Regions from separate parts of the Homo sapiens genome. Here region 1 is linked to region 2. The links come from fine-mapping of genetic effects on gene expression. A gene starts in region 2. The other region holds a variant in brackets. All regions are shown on one strand. Distances are between the middles of the regions. Region 1 has its middle 6.8 kb from the start of KLC3. Region 2 holds the start of ERCC2 (ERCC excision repair 2, TFIIH core complex helicase subunit).

What was found. PIP is the estimated chance that this variant, and not a neighbour inherited with it, causes the effect.
Region 1: its variant is fine-mapped to the expression of ERCC2 in whole blood (INTERVAL, PIP above 0.99).

What each region holds. Positions count from the first base shown.
Region 1 is chr19:45,328,477-45,339,445 of GRCh38, forward strand. It overlaps the pseudogene RPS16P9. Among named protein-coding and RNA genes, the nearest start is that of KLC3, 6.8 kb to the right of the region's middle. The variant C/T (reference allele first, on the strand shown) is at 6,407.
Region 2 is chr19:45,365,381-45,376,349 of GRCh38, forward strand. ERCC2 (ERCC excision repair 2, TFIIH core complex helicase subunit) reads right to left here and starts at 5,193. Exons shown (of 23, transcript NM_000400.4): 1 at 5,156-5,193; 2 at 4,753-4,852; 3 at 3,690-3,767; 4 at 3,550-3,612; 5 at 3,250-3,363. The coding sequence starts at 5,160. RefSeq lists enhancers at 3,947-4,788, 5,407-5,486, 9,961-10,798, 10,799-10,969.

The sequences.
Region 1 (10,969 bases), 37 kb before region 2:
AATCAGCTGACCAGGGTCTGGTCCATAGGGTAGTGGGTGGTGAATAAAATAACGTCTTTCATGGCTCCCAACTTGTCCTGCCCCAGTCTCTCCAAATCAATCAATCTTTTTTTTTTTCTTTGAGAGGGAGTCTCGCTCTGTCACCCAGGCTGGAGTGCACTGATTCGATCTCGGCTCACTGCAACCTCTGCTTTCCGGGTTCAAGCCGTTATCCTGCCTCAGCCTCCTGAGTGGCTGGGATTCCAGCTGCCATCCACCAGCCTTGGCTAATTTTTGTATTTTTAGTAGAGACAGGGTTTCACCATGTTGGCCAGGCTGGTTTCCAACTCCTGACCTCAAATGATCTGCCCTCCTTGGCATCCCAAAGTGCTAGGATTACAGGCAGGAGCCACTGCGCCTGGCCTAATTTTTGTATTTTTAATAGAGATGGGGTTTCACCATGTTGGCCAGGCTAGTCTTCAACTCCTGACCTCAAGTGATCCGCCCGTCTCAGCCTCCCAAAGTGCTGGGATTACAGGCATGAGCCACTGCACCCAGCCCCAGATCAATCAATTTTATCAAATTAGCTATACATTTCCCTCTAGGTGCTGCTTTAGGTTTATCCCAGGTTGTTTTTTGTTTTGTTTTGTTTTTTTCTTGATGTTGTTTGTTTGTTTAGAGACAGGATCTCACTGTCTCCCAGGCTGGAATGCAGTGGTATGATCTTGGCTCATTGCAGCCTCCATCTCCTGAGCTCAGCGATCCTCCCACCTCAGCCTCCTCAGTAGCTGGGATCACAGATGTGTGCCACCATGCCCAGCTAATTTTTGTATCTTTTGTAAAGACACAGTCTTGCTATGTTGCCCAGCCTGGTCTTGAACTCCTGACCTCAAGCAATCCTCCTGCCTCAGCCTCACAAAGTGCTGGGATTGCAGGTGTAAGCCACCATACCTGGCGTGTTTTTTTTTTTTTTTTTTGAGACGGAGTCTCGCTCTGTTGCCCAGGCTGGAGTGCAGTGGTGTGATCTCGGCTCACTGCAAGCTCTGCCTCCCGGGTTCACACCATTCTCCTGCCTCAGCCTCCTGAGTAGCTGGGACTGCAGGTGCCTGCCACCACATCCAGCTAAATTTTTTGTGTGTTTTTCGTAGAGACAGCGTTTCACTGTGTTAGCCTGGATGGTCTTGATCTCCTGACCTCGTGATCCACCTGCCTCAGCCTCGCAAAGTGCTTGGATTACAGGCGTGAGCCACCGGCCCGGCCCATACCTGGCCTGTTTTTATATTCTATTATCATTTCAAATGTATTTTTATTGGAACTGTTATATTTGGAGTGTATGGATGTTCACACTTATTCATATTTTATTTTCTCAAATTTACTCTTTTTTTTTTTTTTTTTTTTTTGAGATCGAGTTTCGCTCTTGTTGCCCAGGCTGGAGTGCAATGGCGGATCTCGGCTCACCGCAACCTCTGCCTCCCAGGTTCAAGCGATTCTCCTGCCTCAGCCTCCCGAGTAGCTGGGATTATAGGCATGTGCCACCATGCCTGGCTAATTTTTGTATTATTAGTAGAGACAGGATTTCACCACGTTGGCCAGGCTGGTCTCAAACTCCTGACTTCTTGATCCTCCTGCCTCGGCCTCCCAAAGTACTGGGATTACAGGCGTGAGCCACTGCGCCCGGCCAAATTTACTGTTTTTATTGAGGCATAATTTATTTTCTTTCCTTCCTTCCTTCCTTCCTTCCTTCCTTCCTTCCTTCCTTCCTCCCTCTCTTCCTCTCTTCCTCCCTCCCTCCTTTTTTTTTTTTGAGACGGAGTCTCACCCTGTCACCCAGGCTGGAGTGCAATGGCGTGATCTCGGCTCACTGCAACCTCTGCCTCCCGGGTTCAAGCGATTCTCCTGCTTCAGCCTTCAGAGTAGCTGGGACTACAGGTGCGCGCCACCACACCTGGCTCATTTTTTGTATCTTTAGTAGAAACGGGGTTTCACCATGTTGGCCAGGCTGGTCGAACTCCTGACCTCGTGATCTGCCCACCCAGGCCTCCCAAAGTGCTGGGATTACAGGTGTGAGCCACCATGCCCGGCCTATTGAGGCATAATTTCTATTTGGTGAAGTGCCCTAATCTTAAAATCAATGAACTTTTATATTCGTGTACATGTGAATAAGCATCACCAGGATCTAAACAGAGACTACTACCAGCTCCCAAAGAAACTCTCTCATGTCCCCTCCCAGTGAATGTCTCTCTCTCCTCCAAGAAAATGTTCTCGCTGAGCGCAGTGGGAGGCCTAGGTGGGTGGATCACTTGAGGTCAGGAGTTCGAGACCAGCTTGACCAACATGGTGAAACCCCGTCTCTACTAAAAATACAAAAAATTAGCCAGGCGTGGTGATGCATACCAGTAATCCCAGCTACTTGGGAGGCTGAGGCAGGAGAATCTCTTGAACCCGGGAGATAGAGGTTGCAGTGAGCCGATATAGTGCCACTGTACTCCAGTCTGGGCAACAACAGTGAAATTCCATCTCAAAGAAAAGAAGAAGGCCGGGCCACCCTCTGCCTCCTGGGTTCAAGCGATTCTCCTGCCTCAGCCGCCTGAGTAGCTGGGATTACAGACACGTGCCACCACGCCTGGCTAATTTTTGTATTTTTAGTAGAGACGGGGTTTCACCATGTTGGTCAGGCTGGTCTTGAACTGCTGACCTTGTGATCTGCCCACCTCAGCCTGAAAAGTGCTGGGATTATAGGCAGGAGTGACCGCGCCCGGCCCATTTGTCTAATTTCTTTTGCTCAACTTTTTTTCTCTTCGGATTCCTTTTTTTCTTTCTTTTTTTCTTTTTGTACAGATGGGGTGGGTCTTGCTATGTTGCCCAGGCTGGTCTTGAACTCTCAGCCTCAAGTGAGCCTGCAGCCTCCAATTCCAGGGCTCCAGGCTTAGCCTCCCAAAGCGCTGGTGTGGCAGAGAATAGGGAATTAGGGTAACTGGGGGTTCATCAGGTACAGCCAGTTTGCATAAGCAACAGAATAGCAGGTGCAGTCAGTTCATGGAGGCAGGAGAGCCACAGGTGCATACAGGCTCTATTCTCCCTCCCATGATAATAAGCCACTCCAGCCTCTGATTGACTGCGAGCCAGGTCTCCACTTGGGCTCTGATTGGTCATGAGCCAACCCTTCATAGAGTGTAACCAATTGGAGGCCTCTGAAGGGCACCTAGGGGTGTTGCCGGGTCCTTTTTAGCTTAATAAAAACCCTAACTGGCAGGCCTGGCGCGGTGGTTCGCCTGTAATCCCAGCACTTTGGGAGGTCAAGGCGGCCAAATCACTCAAGATCAGGAATTTCGGACCAGCCTGGCCAACATGGTGAAATCCCGTCTCTACTAAAAGTACAATAATTAGCCGGGTGTGGTGGCGCATCCGTGGTGGCTCGTGCTAGGAGTCCCAGCTACTCAGGAGGCTGAGGTAGGAGAATCGCTTGAACGCGGGAGGTAGAGGTTGCAGTGAGCTGAGATCATGTCACTGCACTCCAGCCTGGTCAACAGAGCGAGACTACGTCTCAAAAAAAAAACAAAGACAACCCTAATTGGGGAGGTGCTCCAGCCCGCTCCCACTCTGTGAATTGTCTTGGATAAATCTCTGCTTTGTCTTCTGTTGCTTCGTTCTTTTTTTCCTTTTTCTTTTTATTGAAACAGACTACCCCAAAATGCAATAACTTTTTGTTTGTTTGTTTGCTTTTGAGACGGAGTCTCGCTCTGTCACCCAGGCTGGAGTGCAGTGGCGCAATCTCGGCTCACTGCAAGCTCCGCCTCGTGGGTTCACGCCATTCTCCTGCCTCAGCCTCCCGAGTAGCTGGGACTACGGGCGCCCGCCACCACGCCCGGCTAATTTTTTGTATTTTTAGTAGAGACGGGGTTTCACTGCATTAGCCAGGATGGTCTCCATCCCCTGACCTCGTGATCCGCCCGCCTCAGCTTCCCAAAGTGCTGGGATTACAGGCGTGAGCCACCGCGCCCGGCCTAATAACTTTTTTTTGTTTTCTTTTTTTGACTCACTCTGAGGCCCAGGCTGGAGTGCAGTGGTGCGATCTTGGCGCACTGCAATTTCCACCTCCCAGGTTCAAGCGTTTCTCTTTCCTCAGCCTCCGGAGTAGCTGGGTTACAGGTGTGTACCACCACACCCAGCTAATTTTTTTTTCTTGAAATTTTAAAATCTCTCAAAAACTTATACAGGTGAATTTTGATCGTCATGATGGGCTTATTGGTAGGATTTTTGGTAACAAGCACGGGCACCAGGACCTCCAAACTTTTTGGACTCAGAGCGACGGGGATCAGCTACCAGCAGGGTCTGGTCATACTGGATGAGGATGTCTTTGATCTCCTTGGAAGACTCATCCGCATATTTCTGGTACTAGGCCACCAGGGCTCTGGAGATGGACTGACAGCATAAATCTAGGCCCCTTCACATGGACATGGATGTCCACACCAGCAAATCGCTCCTTGCCGGGACCGAGAAAGAGAACTGGCTCCAGCAGCTTGTATCGTAGTGTGCGCAGCTTGATCATCTCCAGGAGCCGCCCATTCACCTTGATGAGGCCATCGCCGTGTTTGCAGTGCACCACAGCTGTGGCTGTTTTCTTGCCACCGAAGACCTGCACAGATTGCAGCTGGCCCTCGGACCGCATGGCTGCGAGCGTGAACTAGAGACCCTCACCACGTGGTGCTGCAATCAGAAAAAAAAAAAAGCTAATTTTTTTTTTTTTTTTTTTTTGAGAGGGAGTTTCGCCCTTGTTGCCCAGGCCGGAGTGCAATGGCGTGATCTCGGCTTACTGCAACCTCCGCCTCCCCGGTTCAAGTGATTCTCCAGCCTCAGCCTCCTGAGTAGCTGGGATTACAGGTTTCTGCCACCACACCCGGCTAATTTTTGTATTTTTAGTAGAGACGGGGTTTCACCATGTTGGCCAGGCTGGTCTCAAACTCCTGACCTCAGGTGATCCACCCACCTCGGTCTCCCAAAGTGCCAGGATTACAGGCGTGAGCCACTGCGCCTGGCCATTTTATTTTTATTTTTATTTTTTTACATTTTATTTTTGGTTCATGGTTTTTTACATTTTATTTTGGTACAATTTTATTTTGGAGACAGGTTCTTACCTCTTGCCCCACTCTTTTTCACCCAAGCTGGAATACAGTGGTGCCATCATAGCTCACTGCAACCTTGACCTCTGGGGATCCCACCTCAATCTCCCAAGCAGCTGCAACTACAGGTGTGCGCCACCACACTTGGCTCATTTTAACTTTTTTTTTTTTTTGTGGAGATGGGGATCTTGCTATATTGCCCAGGCTGGTCTCAAACTCCTGGTCTCAAGCAATCCTCCTGCCTTGGCCTCTCAAAGTGCTGGGATTACAGGTGTGAGCCACCATGCCTGGTCAATAGCTCTAAAATGGATGTGGGGTTGGCTGACAGTTGGCCAATCCAGGCCGGGCTCAGATGGGAAGTTCTGCTTCATATGGGAACCTTGTGGAGTGCAGGCTGAGGGGAGAGGAAGCTCTCAGGGGAAGCCCGTCTCATGGTGATGCTGAGATGCAAAAAGAAATGTTCAAGGTCTCTTGAGGCCTAAGCTCAGAACTGACACGACTGTCACTTGTGCCCCTCTGCTATTGGCCAAAGCAAGTCACATGGCCACACCAAAAGTTCAAGGCCCATCATTTTGTCGTCCTCCACAGGTAAGGATTATATCAGGTGTGCTTTTCTTAAATGGGTCCACACACTCGTACATCCACACACGATCATATTCATGGAATATCTCTGGAAGTATATTGGAAACGGTCATCAGGTTTGCTTGCGGGAAGGGTGTCCGGGGATCAGGGAGAGAGAACGCTTACTTTCACTCTGTAGTCTTTTATTCTCTGTGTCTATGAACGTTTTTTCTGACTGCATTCCCTTTTTTTTTTTTTTTTTTTTTTTTTGAGATGGAGTCTCACTCTTTCGCCCAGGCTGGAGGGCAGTGGTGCTATCTTGGCTCACTGGAACCTCTGCCTCCCGGGTTCAAGCAATTCTCCTGCCTCAGCCTCCCGAGTAGCTGGGACTACTAGCACGTGCCACCATGCCCGGCTAATTTTTTGTGTGCCTTTTTTTTTTTTTTTTTTTTTTGAGACGGGGTCTTGCTCTGTCCCCCAGGCTGGAGTGCAGTGGCGCGATCTCGGCTCACTGCAATCTCTGCCTTCTGGGTTCATGCCATTCTCCTGCCTCAGCCTCCCGAGTAGCTGGGGCTACAGGCGCCAGCCACTGCACCCAGCTAATTTTTTGTATTTTTAGTAGAGACGAGGTTTCACCGTGGTCTCGATCTCCTGACCTCGTGATCCGCCCGCCTCGGCCTCCCAAAGTGCTGGGATTACAGGCGTGAGCCACTGCGCCCGGCCTTTGTGTGCATTTTTAGTAGAGA[C/T]GGGGTTTCACCATGTTGGCCGGGCTGGTCTCAAACTCCTGACCTCAAGTGATCCACCTGCCTTGGCCTCCCAAAGTGCTGGGATGACAGGCGTGAGCCACCACTCCTGGCCATTATTTTTTAAATTAAAAAATTATGGCCAGAAGGTGAAAATAGAAAAGCTCCCATCCTATGTACCCATTTTCCTGACGTGGCAAACTAAGGCCTTAAGGGATAGGGTGGAGTATTTGTTGGATATGCAAGCAATTTCTCCTCTCTGAGCCTCAGTTTCCTTTTTTATTTATTTTTTGAGACAGGCTGTCACTCTGTCACCCAGGCTGGAGTGCAGTGGTATGATAATAGCTCACTGCAGGCTCAGACTCCTGGGCTCAAGCAATCCCCCTGCTTCAGCCTCCTGAGTTGCTGAGACCACGTGTGACACATCACACATGGCTAATTTTTTTTTTAATTTTTTTTGGCAGGTGGGTGACGCCTGTAATTCCAGCACTTTGGGAGGCCAAGGCAGGCAGATCATTTAAGGTCAGGAGTTGGAGACCAGCCTAACCAACATGGTGAAACCCTGTCTATACTAAAAATACACAAAAATTAGCCGGGGGTGGTGGCGCATGTCTGTAGTCCCAGCTACTCAGGAGGCTGCGGCAGGAGAATTGCTTAAACCCAGGAGGCGGAGGTTGCAGTGAGCTGATATCGTGCCACTGCATTCCAGCCTGGGCGACAGAGCAAGACTCCATCTCAAAAAAATAAACAGGCTGGGCCCGGTGGCTCACGCCCATAATCCCAGCAGTTTGGGGGGCTGAGGTGGGCAGATCACTTGAGGTCAGGAGTTTGAGACCAGCCTGGCCAACATGGTGAAACCCCATGTCTACTAAAAATACAAAAAAATTAGCCAGGTGTGGTTCCTGTAATCCTAGCTACTCAGGTGGCTGAGGCAGGAGAATTGCTTTAGCCCAGGGCACGGAGGTTACAGTGAGCCAAGATCACGCCACTGCACTCCAGCCTGGGCGACAGAGTAAGACTCTATCTCAAAAAAAATAAATAAATAAATTTTTTTTTGTAGAGATAGGTTCATCCTATGTTCCCCAAGTTGGTCTCAAACTCCTAGGCTCCAGCAATCCTCCTGAAGCCCTGGGATTACAGGTATGAGTCACCACATCCGGCCAGTTTCCTCATTTTTAGGTGGGGCTGGTAATAGTGCCTACCTTGGGGGGTCAGCTACAAAGATTCTGGGGCTCTGCTACTCCTTGGCTGTGTGACCTAAGACAAGTTACTCAGCCTCTCTGTGCCTCATCTTTTTCACCTGTGGAATGGAGCGAATCATCGCAGCTGGTGTGAAGATTAACAATTTGTATATAGGAGTTGGCACAGGGCCAGTCTGGGGTAAGAACTCAAACATCAGCCATTGTTGGCGTTGTGCAAAAGTACTTGGAACACCGCTGGCCTAAAGGAAGGTTTTCCTGGCCAGGTGTGGTGGCTCACGCCTGTAATCCCAGCACTTTGGGAGGCCGAGGCAGGCAGATCACGAGGTCAGGAGATCAAGACCATTCTGGCTAACACGGTGAAACCCCGTCTCTACTAAAAATACAAAAATTAGCTGGGCATGGCGGTACGTGCCTATAGTCCCAGCTACTCCGGAGGCTGAGGCAGGAGAATTGTATGAACCTGGGAGGCGGAAGTTGTAGTGAGCCGAGATTGTGCCACTGCACTCCAGCCGGGGAGAAAGAGCATGACTCCGTCTCAAAAAAACAAAAACAACAACAGCAGCAACAAAAGCAAGAAAGGTTTTCCTTAGTTAACACTTTCTTCTTCTTTCAATCTTTATCTCATTTAAGTCTCACCTCAATGCTGTGTGATGAGTGTGATCATCCCCATTTTACTAGACGAGGAGACAGAGGCTCAGCCAGAGATCATTGTTCCCCCGGTTTACATGGAACAGAAATGGCAGGGCCAGGATTTAAACCTAGATCTGCCTGGCTCCCCGCCCGGCTCCATCCCCTGCCCTCCCCCAACACACATAGTATTTACCGGGTGCTACCCTGTTCTAAGCCTTTTCTGGGGGATTATACAGTAATCCTCACCACAGCCTTAAAGTAGGGTACCCTGTGAGTCTCGTTTGACAGACTAGAAATCTGAGGTCCAGAGAGGTTACTTCTTGGCTCAGAGGGTCACACAGCTAGCAAATGACCCAGCTGAGATTTGTCCCTGCTGGCCTGGCTCCAGTCCCTGCACTGCCTGTGGTAAGCGTGTAGCAGATCCAGATCCAATGTCCAGCGTCGTGAGGCCAAAAAAATGGGGGGCAGGGGGAAGGCTCTGCTGCCCCTCGATCCTGTGCTGTTGAAATAGCTGGAGCTAGCACTTTGGAAGGCCGAGGCGGGTAGATCACCTGAGGTCAGGAGTTCGAGACCAGCCTGGCCAACATGGCGAAACCCTGTCTATACTAAAAATATAAAAATTACCTGGGCGTGATGGTGCACACCTGTAATCCCAGCTACTCTGGAGGCTGAGGCAGGAGAATCATTTGAACCCGGGAGATGGAGGTTTCAGTGAGCCGAGATCATGCCATTGCACTCCAGCCTGGGCAACAGAGACACTGTCTTTTTTTTTTTTTTTTTAGGGGATGGAGTTTTGCTCTTGTTGCCCAGGCTGGAGTGCAATGACGCCATCTTGGCTCACTGCAACCTCCGCCTCCCTGGTTCAAGTGATTCTCCTGTCTTAGCCTCCTGACAAGCTGGAATTACAGGCCCATGCCACCAAGCCCGGCTAATTTTTGTAATTTTAGTAGAGACACGGTTTCATCATATTGGTCAGGCTGGTCTCGCCCTCCTGATCTCAGGTGATCCGCCCTCCTGATCTCAGGTGATCCGCCCTCCTAGGCCTCCCAAAGTGCTGGGATTATAGGCATGAGCCACCACTCCCAGTGAGATGCTGTCTTAATTAAAAAAAGGAAGAAAGAAAGAAATAGCTGGAGCTTGGCACAGTGGCTCATGCCTGTAATCCCAGGACTTTGGGAGGCCAAGGCAGGAGGATCGCTTGAGGTCAGGAGTTCAAAACCAGCCTGGGCAATATAGGGAGACCCCCATCTTTACAAAAAACAACAAAAAGTAGCTGGGTATGGTGGTGCATTTGTAGTCCCAGCTACCTGGGACTTGGGAGGCTGAGGAGGGAGCATTGCTTAAACCCGGGAAATCAAGGCTGCAGTGAGTTACGACTGCCACTGCACTCCAGCCTGGGTGACAGAGTGACACCTGTCTTTTAAAAAAGCTAGAGTAGGCCGGGCATGGTGGCTGACGCCTATAATCCCAGCACTCTGGGAGGCCGAAGTGGGTGGATCACCTGAGGTCAAGAGTTCAAGACCAGCCTGGCCAACATGGGAAACTCCATTTCTACAAAAATATAAAAATTAGCAAGGCATGATGGTGGGTGCCTGTAATCCCAGCTGCTTGGGAGGCTGGGGCGGGAGAATCGCTTGAACCTGGGAAGCGGAGGTTACACAATGAGCCAAGATCGTGCCACTGCACTCCAGCCTGGGCAACAGAGCAAGACTGTCTTAAAAAAAAAAAAATGCTGGAGTAGTTAGGATATGAGTTTGAATTTTTATTTCCATGATTCAATCAGCACCTATTCTCCCAAATGCCTTCTCTGCGTTGGGCCTGTGCTAGGTGGCACTGGGGACACAGTGGAGACTGACATGGCCCCTGGCCGCCTCCTCCCTTCTTGGGGCTCATAGTCTAATATGGGACTGACCTGTCTCCCCACACTGATGACCCAGAGTTGGCAGGGCTGGATGTGGGAGCCCAAGAGCCTGGAAACCTGGGAAATAAGAAAGGGCTTCCTGGAGGAGGAAGCATCAGCACTGGGGCTCAGACAACAGGGAAGTAGAGGGCACGTTGGCTGCAATTCGGAGGGAGCGCGGAGCTGTGCCGAGTCTGGAGTTTGGTCCACGGACCAGCAGCGCCCTCTGCTGGAAGCATTTCATAGTGTAGTGACCGGGGTACCGCGCGCATTGAGCCATGTATGTATGTATGCATTTATTTATTTTTGAGATGGAGTTTCGCTCTTGTTGCCCAGGCAGGAGTGTAATGGTGTGATCTCGGCTCACTGCAACCTCTGCCTCTGGGGTTCAAGCGATTCGCCTGCCTCAGCCTCCCAAGTAGCTGGGATTACAGGCGTGCGCTACCACACCCGGCTAATTTTGTATTTTTAGTAGAGATAGGGTTTCACCATGTTGGCCAGGCTGGTCTCGAACTCCTGACCTCAAGTGATCCAGCCCCCTCGGCCTCCCAAAGTGCTGGGATTACAGGTGTGAGCCACTGCGCCGTCCTCAAGTTATATTAGAATCGTGTCCTCCCAGCTTTGGCCAGCTTACTATTCTAGGACTTGATTCCTTCATTCAGTCACAATTTATTGAGCACCGACTTTGCATCAAGCTCTTGCTGAAGATAACAGTGCTGACAATATACAGCCCTGCCCTCAGAGCTTATATAGTAGAGGAGAAAAAGTGAACCCATAATATACAGTCAGTAGCGAGTATTTACTAAGTACTTTCTATTTGCGAGGCCCTGATAA
Region 2 (10,969 bases):
CTGAGGTGGGCAGATCACGAGGTCAGGAGTTCGAGACCAGCCTGGCCAACATGGTGAAACCCTGTCTCCACTAAAAATACATTAGCCAGGCGTGGTGGCACATGCCTGTAATCCCAGTTACTCGGGAGGCTGAGGCAGGAGAATCGCTTGTATCCGGGAGGTGGAGGTTGCAGTGAGCAGAGATCGTGCCATAGCACTCCAGCCTGGGCGACAGAGTGAGACACCATCTCAAAAAAATAAGTAAAAATAAAAATACAAAAATGAGCCAGGTGTGGTGGTGCACACCTGGAATCCCAGCTACTCGGGAGGCTGAGGCAGGAGAATCCCTTGAACCCAGAAGGCAGAGGTTGCAGTGAGCCGAGATCATGCCACTGTACTCCACCCTGGGCCACGGAGCCAGACTCCCTCTCAAAAAAAAAAAGAGTAGCAAAATTGTTACATTCTTACAACTACAAGTTATACATACATATTTTTGGAGACAAGTCCCTCTGCTACTCAGGCTGGAATGCAGTGGCCCAATCACGGCTCACTACATCCTTGACCTCCCAGGCTCAAGTGATCCTTCCCCCACTCAGCCTCCCGAGTAGCTGCGGCCACAGGTGTGCACCACCATGCCCGGCTAATTTTTGTCTTCTTAGTTGAGATGAGGTCTTGCTATGTTGCCCAGGCTGGTCTCAAACTCCTGGTCTCAAGCAATCCTCCCACCTCAGCCTCCCAAAGTGCTGGGATTACAGGCTGAGCCACTGCGCCCAGCCAGCCAAAACTAATATTTTATTTTTTGAGACGGAGTCTTGCTCTGTTGCCCAGGCTGGAGTGCAATGGCACGATCTTGGCTCACCACAACCTCCGCCTCCCAGGTTCAAGCGATTCTCCTGTCTCAGCCTCCCGAGTAGCTGGGATTACAGACATGTGCCACCACACCCGGCTAATTTTGTCTTTTTAGTAGAGACAGGGTTTCTCCATGTTGATCAAGCTGGTCTCGAACTCCTGATCTCAGGTGATCCACCCGCCTCGGCCTCCCAAAGTGCTGGGATTATAGGTGTGAGCCACCGTGCCCAGCCCAAAACTAATATTTTAAAACAATAAGCCTGAAAAATCTTTAGCATATAGGTTGAAGATAACTACTTCATCCTTGGAAATGCCAAAACGCATGGAACCTTGGCAGGGCCTAAGAATCAAAGGAGGTTCCACACAGTCTGGGACTCCCCTTACCCCTGACCTGCTCTGTACCCTCTAAGGCACCATCACAGCCTAAGGCTTTTTCTGAAGAACAAATCCTTTTCCTACGCCAAAAGGAAAGCTCCAAGGCAGCCAGCCCTTCCTTCTCCATTTCCCCTTTCATCAGTCACCGAGGCCTGTGCTCTTTGTCATCCACTAGATGTATTATTTCTCACATATTCTTACAAATAATGTGATATAATATATAGTCTGTGGGCCCAGTGTGGGAGTTTGAGACCAGCCCGGCCAACATGATGAAACCCCATCTCTACTAAAAATACAAAAAACTAGCAGGGCGTGGTGGTGGGTGCCTGTAATCCCAGCTACTCAGGAAGCTGAGGCAGAAGAATCACTTGAACCTCGGAGGTGGAGGTTGTGGTGAACCGAGATCACGCCACTGCACTCCAGCCTGGGCAACAAGAGTGAAACTCCATTTCAAAAATAATAATAATAAATAAGGCTGGGCACGATGGCTCATGCCTGTAATCCCAGCACTTTGGGAGGCTGAGGCGGGAGGATCACAAGGTCGGGAGTTAGAGACCAGCCTAACCAACATGGTGAAACACCGTCTCTACTAAAAACACACAAATTAGCCGGGTGTAGTGGGGCACCTGTAATCCTAGCTACTCAGGAGGCTGAGGCAGGAGAATTGCTTGAACCCGGGAGGCGGAGCTTGTAGTAAGCCAAGATCACTCCCCTGCACTCCAGGCTGGGTGACAGAGTGAGACTCCGTCTCAAAAACAAAACAAAACAAAAATATATATATATATACACACACACACACACACACACACACACACACATATAAAAACATATATACACACACATATATATGTAAGTATAATATATACACATATATACATTCTGTGGGTTACCACATGTAAAGTATTCAGAACAGTGCCTGGCACACAGTGAGTACAATTTTTTTTTTTTTTTGAGACGGAGTTTCACTCTTGTTGCCCAGGCTGGAGTGCAGTGGCGCGATCTCGGCTCACTGCAACCTCCCCCTCGGGAGTTCGAGCAATTCTCCTGTCTCAGCCTCCCAAGTAGCTGGGATTACAGGCATGTGCCCAGCTAATTTTTCAATTTTTTTTCAGTAGAGACGGGGTTTCTCCATATTGGCCAGGCTGGTCTCAAACTCCCGACCTCAGGTGTCCACCCGCCTCGGCCTCCCAAAGTGCTGGGATTATAGTCGTGAGTCACCATGCCCAGCCAAGTACAATGATTTTATAGCATAATTTAATGATAACTAATATTGTATTTGTCATATATCATTATGCATATAAATATCATGACAATTTCTTTTTTTTTTTTTTTAAGACAGAGTCTCACTCTGTCACCCAGGCTGGAATGCAGTGGCATGACCTCAGCTCACTGCAACCTCTGCCTCCTGGGTACAAGCGATTGGCATTACCGACGTGTACACCACCACCCCCGGCTAATTTTTGTATTTTTAGTAGAAATGGGGTTTCGCCGTGTTGGCCAGGATGGTCTCGAACTCCTGACCTCAAATGATCTGCCCACCTCAGACTCCCAAAGTGCTGGGACTACAAGCGTGAACCACTGCACCTGGCCTATCATGAGAATTTCTAACATTCTTTTAGCTCTTTGTACATGCTAAGGGCATCGGCTGCAACATTTCACCCAATTTTATCATCAGCAACCTTATGAAGCAGGTACATAATTATCCCCATTTTACAGAAAGGAAGACTGAGGCCCAGGTGGCAGAAAATGCCTCTCCATAAATACTGGGCTAGTAAGTTTCAGAGCCAGGAAACCAGGCTTGCCAGAGACTCTAAGAGCTGCCTTTTTAACCTCTCCTAGGCCTGGGTAGAATTTGAAGACTCCCTGGAGGAAGTGTGCTTGCCTGGGCCACGATGAATGAGAATTTGACCACTGAGACGGGAATTCTGTGTGTAGCCACTGCATGCCTTTGCAAGAGATATGGCCTGGGGATCCAGGACTTGTGGTTGGACGAAAGAGTTTTCTCTACCTCTGGGCTAAGGGCAAGGAGAAGGAACAGGTGCTCACCTCAGGGTGAATACACAAGTTTTTGCGGGAGCTCAGAGCCAGTCCCAGAAACGGCAGCTTCTCGCCCTCCTGCTTCTCATAGAAGTTGAGCAACTTTCGAAGCTCTTCAATCACCTACTCCAAAGTTGGGGGGCAGGGGGAGCTTGTGCTCATTGGAGGCACAAACCCCTGCCCTGCCAGGTCCCAGTCTCTTCCCCAGCTTCCCAAACACCCCCGAAAGCTGGTGACGGCCACCGCCAGGGGGACCAATAGGGCCTAGGGAACAGTGGGGCTGGAGCACCAGGATGAGTCCCAGCTTACCTTCTCAATCTCTGGCACAGTTCTTGAGCAGTAGATGAGTTTGGTCACCTCCAGCGGATATGCCTGCCGATAACAAGCGGACTCAGTCCCTGTCCCGCCCCTTCCTTTGTCTGCCTTTACGGGTTCAGCGCATCACTCACTCTCTGGTATGCCATGATCAGGGCCAACAGGGATACTGTCTTCCCGGTGCCTGAGGGCATCTCCAGGACTCCATGACCCTGCATGTTGGGGACCAGAGGGGCAACACACAGGGTCTCAGAACCTTGGGCACACAAACTCTGGGGACTCTCCCCGACCCCCAATGCCACCAACTCAGAACAGCAGGATAACACAGCAGCAGTTAAGATTGGGCAGTGGGTTTGAACCTCACTTCTGCCTCCTCCTTGTTGAGTGGTCTTAGGCAAGTACCTTCACCTCCCCAGACCTCAGTATCCCTATCTCTAAAATGAGCCTAAAGCCAGGCGTGGTGGCTCACACCTGTAATCCCAGCACTTTGGGAGGCTGAGGCAGGTGAACCACCTGAGGTCAGAAGTTCAAGACCAGCTGGGCCAACAAGGTGAAACCCCGTCTCTACTAAAAATACAAAAAATTAGCCAGATGTGGTGGCGCGCACCTGTAATTCAATCTCAAAAATAAATAAATAAAATAAAATGGGCCTAATAATAAAACCTTCCTCATAACATGACTATGAGGATTGTGAGAAATTGCAGGTTAAATATTTGGCACAGTAGCTGATATATAGTGAACTTTTCTCCCTTCTTTTTTAAGAGACAAGTGTCACTATTGCCCAGGCTGGAATGCAGTGGCACAATCATGGCTCACTGCAGCCTCCAACTCCTGGCCTCAAGCGATCCTCCTGCCTCAGCCTCCCGAGTAGGTGGGATTACAGGCGCCCGCCACCACACCTGGCTAATTTTTGTATTTTTAGTACAGACGGGGTTTCACCGTGTTGGCCAGGCTGGTCTCCAACTCCTGACCTCAAGTGATCCGCCCGCCTCGTCCTCCCAAAGCTCTGGGATTACAGGCGCGAGCCACCGCGCCCAGCCTATTCACCATTATTGTTTTAGATAACGGAAGATTATGGGGTCCTGGATTCCCAGGGACCTCGGACTTCTAAAATCCAGACGTCCTGCAATCTGTCTTAGGCCCAGGCGTGGCAGCCCCACCGGTCGAGTGGGCGGGTCGGGCCCACCGGCCACCCACCTTGGCGTCCAGCGTGCGTTTGAGCTCCCGCATGTAGGAGAACTGCTCGGGGTAGATGTAGTCGTACGGGAAGTAGACCAGGAGCCCGTCCACGTTGAGCCTGGCGGCAGGGGCTGCTGGGTCAGTTCCCGTCCCCTCAGCCCCTCTCCCGCCTCCACAGTGCCCGGTCGTCGAGCCCAGAGAAGGGTGACGGGCCCGGCGCCCCCGGTAACCCTCAGGTCCTCAGGAGCCTCGGGGCCCCCTCAGTGTCTCCTCGCTATCACTGCTGCTCCCTGCGGCTGCCCCCGTCCCACCCCTTCACCCTCCCCTCGCCCCCTTGGGGACCCAGGCGCGCCCACCGATGACCCCATCTTCAAGACCCCCCGCGCCCGCTAGCGAGCGCGACCCCCAGCCCCCTTCTCACTTCATGGCGCCGGCCGGACTGTGCAGCGGGGTCGACCCGCCTCCCTCATGAATATTCAGCGAGAGGCCGGGTCGTGGACATCCTCGAGGGCTCGCTCCACCTATATTACGAGACCATTGGCTAACCTGCCCGTCAATCCGCTAGGGCAGAGCCAATCGGGATACTGCGCGTGCGCACGGAAAAGCGAGGGCGGCTGACTCTCGGGTGAGGCGGTGCGGGAGGCGTCACTGAGGATCGTCGAGGGCCAATCAAAAAGAAAACATGGAAGGGAAAGAGCCGAGAGACTCGATCTCATTCACTAGAATTTGGTCCTCCTGCGCCTGCCAAGATTGTCTGAGTATTGATCGAACCCAGGAGTTCGAGATCAGCTTGAGCAAGATAGCGAGAACCCCCGCCCCTCCACCTCGTCTCAAAAAAAAAAAAAAATCGTCTCAGTAGCGAATAGTCTAACGGAGAATGACAGGGAAATTGGTGATCCTTTCTGGGCCCAAGAGTTAGAAATGGCTTTGCAGGCCGGGCGCGGTGGCTCAAGCCTGTAATCCCAGCACTTTGGGAGGCTGAGGCAGGTGGATCACCTGAGGTCGGGAGTTCAAGACCAGCCTGACCAACATGGAGAAAACCTGTCTCTACTAAAGATACAAAATTAGCCGGGCGTGCTGGCAAATGCTTGTAATCCCAGCTACTCGGGAGGCTGAAGCAGGAGAATTGCTTGAACCTGGGAGGCAGAGGTTGCAGTGAGCAGAGATGGCGCCGTCGCACTCTAGCCTGGGCAACAAAAGCGAAACTCCATTTCAAATATTAATAATAATAACTAATAAATAAAACATAAATGCTAGCTTTTGTTTGTTTCTTCAACAAATAGCTATGTGGCATCTACCATGTGTCTGATCCTGTGCTGGCCCCTGGGAACAGAAAGGTGACCATGACAGCCTCAGCACCTGCCCTCAAAGAACAGATTTTTTTCCTTGAGACAGGGTCTTTCTCTGTCGCCAAGGCTGGAGTGCAGTGGCACAGTCACAGCTCACTGCAGCCTCCACCTCTTGGGCTCAAGCGATCCTCCCACCTCAGCTTCCAGAGTAGCTGGGACCACAGGTGTGCACCACCAAGCCCAGCTAAGTTTTATTTTTTAAATTTTTTTAGAGACGAGGTCTCACCACGTTGCCCAGGCTGGTTAAACTCGCAGGTTCAAGTGATCCTCTCCCCTCAGCCTTTCAAATTGTTGGGATTACAGGGGTGAGGCACCAGGCCTGGCCTCAAAGAACAGATATTAAATATACAAATGAATATATGATTACAGCCTGGAGTGGTGGCTCGTGCCTGTGGTTCCAACACTTTGGAAGGCCAAGGCGAGTACATTGCTTGAGCTCAGGAGCTAGAGACCAGCCTGGGCAACATGGTGAAAACCCGTCTCTACAAAAAATGCAAAAATTAGCTGGGCGTGGTGGCGTGCACCTGTAGTCCCAGATACTCAGGAGGCTGAGGTGGGAGAATCACCTGGGCCTGGGAGGCAGAGGTTGCAATGGGCAGTGATTGTGCCACTGCACTCCAGCCTGGGCAACAGGAGTGAAAACCTATCTCAAATGTGTGTGTGTGTGTGTGTGTGTGTGTGTGTGCGCACGTGTATAATCACAAGTACAAAAGTGCTGTGAAGGAAAACTTCAAGTCACCATAAAGATTGATTATGGGCTGGGTGCAGTGGCTCATGCCTGTAATCCCAGCACTTTGGGAGGCCAAGGCAGATGGATCACGAGGTCAGGAGTTCAAGACCAGCCTGGTCAACATGGTGAAACCCTATCTCTACTAAAAAAAAAAAAAAAAAAAAAAAAGCCAGGCATAGTGGCATGCATCTGTAATCCCATCTACTCGGGAGGCTAAAGCAGGAGAATTGCTTGAACCCAGGAGGCAGAAGTGAGCCAAGATCACGCCACTGCACTCCAGCCTGCGTGACAGAGCAAGACTCCGTCCCAGAAAAAGAAAAAAAAAAAAGACTTATTATGACAGGATGTCTACTGTCAACTGTGGGGTGTGAGTGTTGGCCAAGTGATCAGAGAAGGCTTCGTGGAAGAAGCGAGGTTTGAGTAGAGCCAGAAAATAATTAGAAGAGATCAACCAGCAAGAGGGGATGGATGAGAGAAGTGAGAAAGGTGTTCCAGGGAGAGAGACCATCATACACAAAAGCTCTAGGCCAGAAGAAAGCTGAGGCCTGTGAGTGCTGAAAGGAAGCCTGTGGGGGTGGAGCTCTGAGTTGAGCACAGGGAGCAGAGAAAGGGCAGCTGGAGGGGAAGGCAGGGGCAGATCGAAATCTCTTTTTTAAATTAATTAATTCTTAATTTATTTATTTTTGAGACAAGGTCTCACTCTTTCGCCCAGACTGGAGTACAGTGGCACAATCTCAGCGCACCGCAACCTCTGCCACCCAGGCTCAAGCAATTCTCTGGCCTCAGCCTCCCTAGTAGCTGGGATTACAGGTGCGCACCACTACTGCCCAGCTAATTTTTATACTTTTAGTAGAAACGGGGTTTCACTATGTTGGCCAGGCTGGCCTCAAACTCCTGACCTCAAAAGATCCACCCACTTCAGCCTCCCAAAGTGCTGGGATTACAGGTGTGAGCCACCCTTCCCGGCTGTATTTTTGGAGACAGAGTCTTGCTCTGTCCCAGCCTGGAGTATGGTGGTGTGAATTTGGCTCATTGCCACCTTGACCTCCAGGGCTCAAGTGATCCTCCCACCTCAGCCTCCTGAGTAGCTGGGACTGCGGGTACACGACACCACGCCTGGTTAATTTTTTTTAATTTTTTGTAGAGACGAGGGTATCTCACTATGTTGTCCAGGCTGGTTGAACTCCTGAGCTCAAGCAATTCTCCCACCTCAGCCTCCCAAAGTGGTGGGATTACAGACGTGAGCCACTGTGCCCGGCTTAATTTATTTACATAAATTTTTTTATGTTTACTTTTCTATCTCCTACAGGAAGAAAATATATTTTGTTATTGACAGGGTCTCGCTATGTTGCCCAGGCTGGTATTGGGCTCAAGCCATCCTGTTCCCTCAGCCTCCCAAAGTACTGGGATTACAAGCGTGAGCCTCTGCATCCAGCCCAGATCCAAAATCTTTACTGTCACCTACAGAGTCCTCTGTAACTAGCTTACTGCTCATCATCCCCATACCAACCCACCTTACTGCTCTGATCTCCTCCTCTCTCTCCCCCAGCTCATTTTGTTTCAGCTATGCTGGTCTCCTTGCTGTCTCTAAAACATAACAAGCACATCCCATCTCAGGGCCTTTGCACCAGCTATTTTGTCTGCCTGGAATGCTGTTTCCCCTGATAGCCATGTGGCTGACACACTCACCTCCCTCAGCTCTTTGCTCAATTGTCAACTTCTCGGCCCGGCATGGTGGCTCACACCTGTAATCCTACCACTTTGGGAGGCTGAGGTGGGCAGATCACCTGAGATCAGGAGTTCGAGACCAGCCTGGCCAAGATGGTGAAATCCCGTCTCTACTAAAAATACAAAAATTGGCAAAGCATGGTAGCACATACCAGTAATCCTAGCTACCCGGGAGGCTGAGGCAGGAGAATTGCTGGAACCCGGGAGGCAGAGGCTGCAGTGAGCCAAGATCATGCCACTGTACTCCAGCCTGGGTGACAAAGCAAGACTCTGTCTCAAAAAAAAAAAAGTCTCCTTCTCAATGAGGGCTTCCTGACCACCAAATTAAATCTACCTCCTAGACACACACACACACGCACGCACGCACGCACACACACACACGCACGCACGCACACACACACACACACACACACTATATCCCCTTTCCCTGCTTTATTGTTCTTGAGAGCTCATTTAACCATGTGACATGCTGAATATTTTACTTATTTATTTTGTTTAGAAAGCTCCTGGCTGGGCGCGGGGGCTCACGCCTGTAATCCCAGCACTTTGGGAGGCTGGAACAGGTGGATCATGTGAGGTCAGGAGTTCCAGACCAGCCTGACCAACACGGTGAAACCTCATCTCTATTAAAAATGCAAAAATTAGCTGGGTGTGGTGTCGCATGCCTGTAATCCCAACTACTCAGAAGGCTGAAGCAGGAGAATCGCTTGAACCTGGGAGGCAGAGGTTAACGCTGAGCCGAGATCGCGCCATTGCACTCCAGCCTGGGCAACAAGAGTGAAACTCTGTCTCGAAAAAAACAAAAGTCAGCTCCATGGCAGGAGTGATGGCTCACGCCTATAATCCCAGCACTTTGTGAGGCCGAGGCGGGCGGATCACTTGAGGTCAGGAGTTGGAGACCAGCCTGGCCAACATGGTGAAACCTCATCTCTACTAAAAATACAAAAATTAGCCGGGCGTGGTGACACATGTCTGTAGTCCCAGCTACTTGGGAGGCTGAGGCTGGAGAATGGCTTGAACCTGGGAGGTAGAGGTTGCAGTAAGCCAAGATCGCGCCATTGCTCTCCATCCTGGGCAACAGACTCCGTCTCAGAAAGGAAGAAAGAAGGAAAGAGAGAAAGAGAGAAAGAGACAGAGAGAGAGAGAGAAAGGGAGAAAGAGAGAAAGGATGGAAGGACCCTGACAAGCACTGTTGCATAAAAGTTTCTTTTCTCTCTCTTTTTTTTTTTTTTTTTTTTTTGAGACAGGGTCTCACTTCTGTTGCTCCAGCTGAAGTGCAGTGGTGAGAACATGGCTCAGTGCAGCCTCAACTTCCCAGGCTTAAGTGATCCTGCCACCTCAGCCTCCTGAGTAGCTGGGACTGTAGGTGTGCACCACCGTGCCTAGCTAATTTTTTGTATTTTTAGTAGAGACATGGTTCCGCCACGTTGCCCAGGCTGGTCTTGAACTCCTGGGCTTAAGGGATCTGCCCGCCATGGCCTCCCAAAGTGCTGGGATTACCAGCGTGAGCCACTGTACCCAGCCTGAGTATAGGTTTCTGATAAATTTTAGGATCATATTGTTTGGACTGGGTAAGAATTTCCAGAACTCTAATGAAGAAACTGACTGGTTTATATTTTATTTTATTTTATTTTATTATTTTTGAGATGGATTTTCACTCTTGTTGCCCAAGCTGGATTGCAGTGGCACGATCTTGGCTCACCACAACCTCCGCCTCCCGGTTTCAAGTGATTCTCCTGCCTCAGCCTCCCCAGGAGCTGGGATTACAGGCACCCACCACCATGCTCGGCTATTTTTTTTTTTATTTTTTTATTTTTAGTAGAGACGGGGTTTCACCATGTTGGCCAGGCTGGTCTCGAACTCCTGACCTCAGGTGATCCACCTGCCTTGGCCTCCCAAAGCGCTGGGATTACAGGCATGAGCCACTGTGCAAGGCCTAGGCTGGTTTATAAAATTGCTAAACCAAGCAGAACATGAATTAAATACCAAGGAAATACTCTCCTAGATTGTCATGTTACATCAGCCAATACTAAAATTGTCAAGATACACAATTTGAATGAACTCCATGGTCCAAGTCGAATTATCTATGATATTACCCATCTAATAAACAGCACTATGTCCCTTAATGGGAGAAAAAGTTGGAGAATTTAAGAGAATATCAATCCAATGTTGGTTGGGTGCAGTGAATCATGTCTATATTCCCAGCACTTTGGGAGGCCAAGGCAGGAGGATCACTTGAGCCCAGGAATTCAAGGCCAGCCTCGGCAACACGGTGAGATCCTGTCTCTACGGAAAATTAAAAAAAAAAAAAGAGAGAGATTAGTGGGATGTGGTGCCTATAGTCCCAGCTACTTGGGAGGCTGAGGCGGGAGGATCATTTAAGCCTGGGACGTTGAGGTTGCAGTGAACCATGAGTGAGACTCATCTC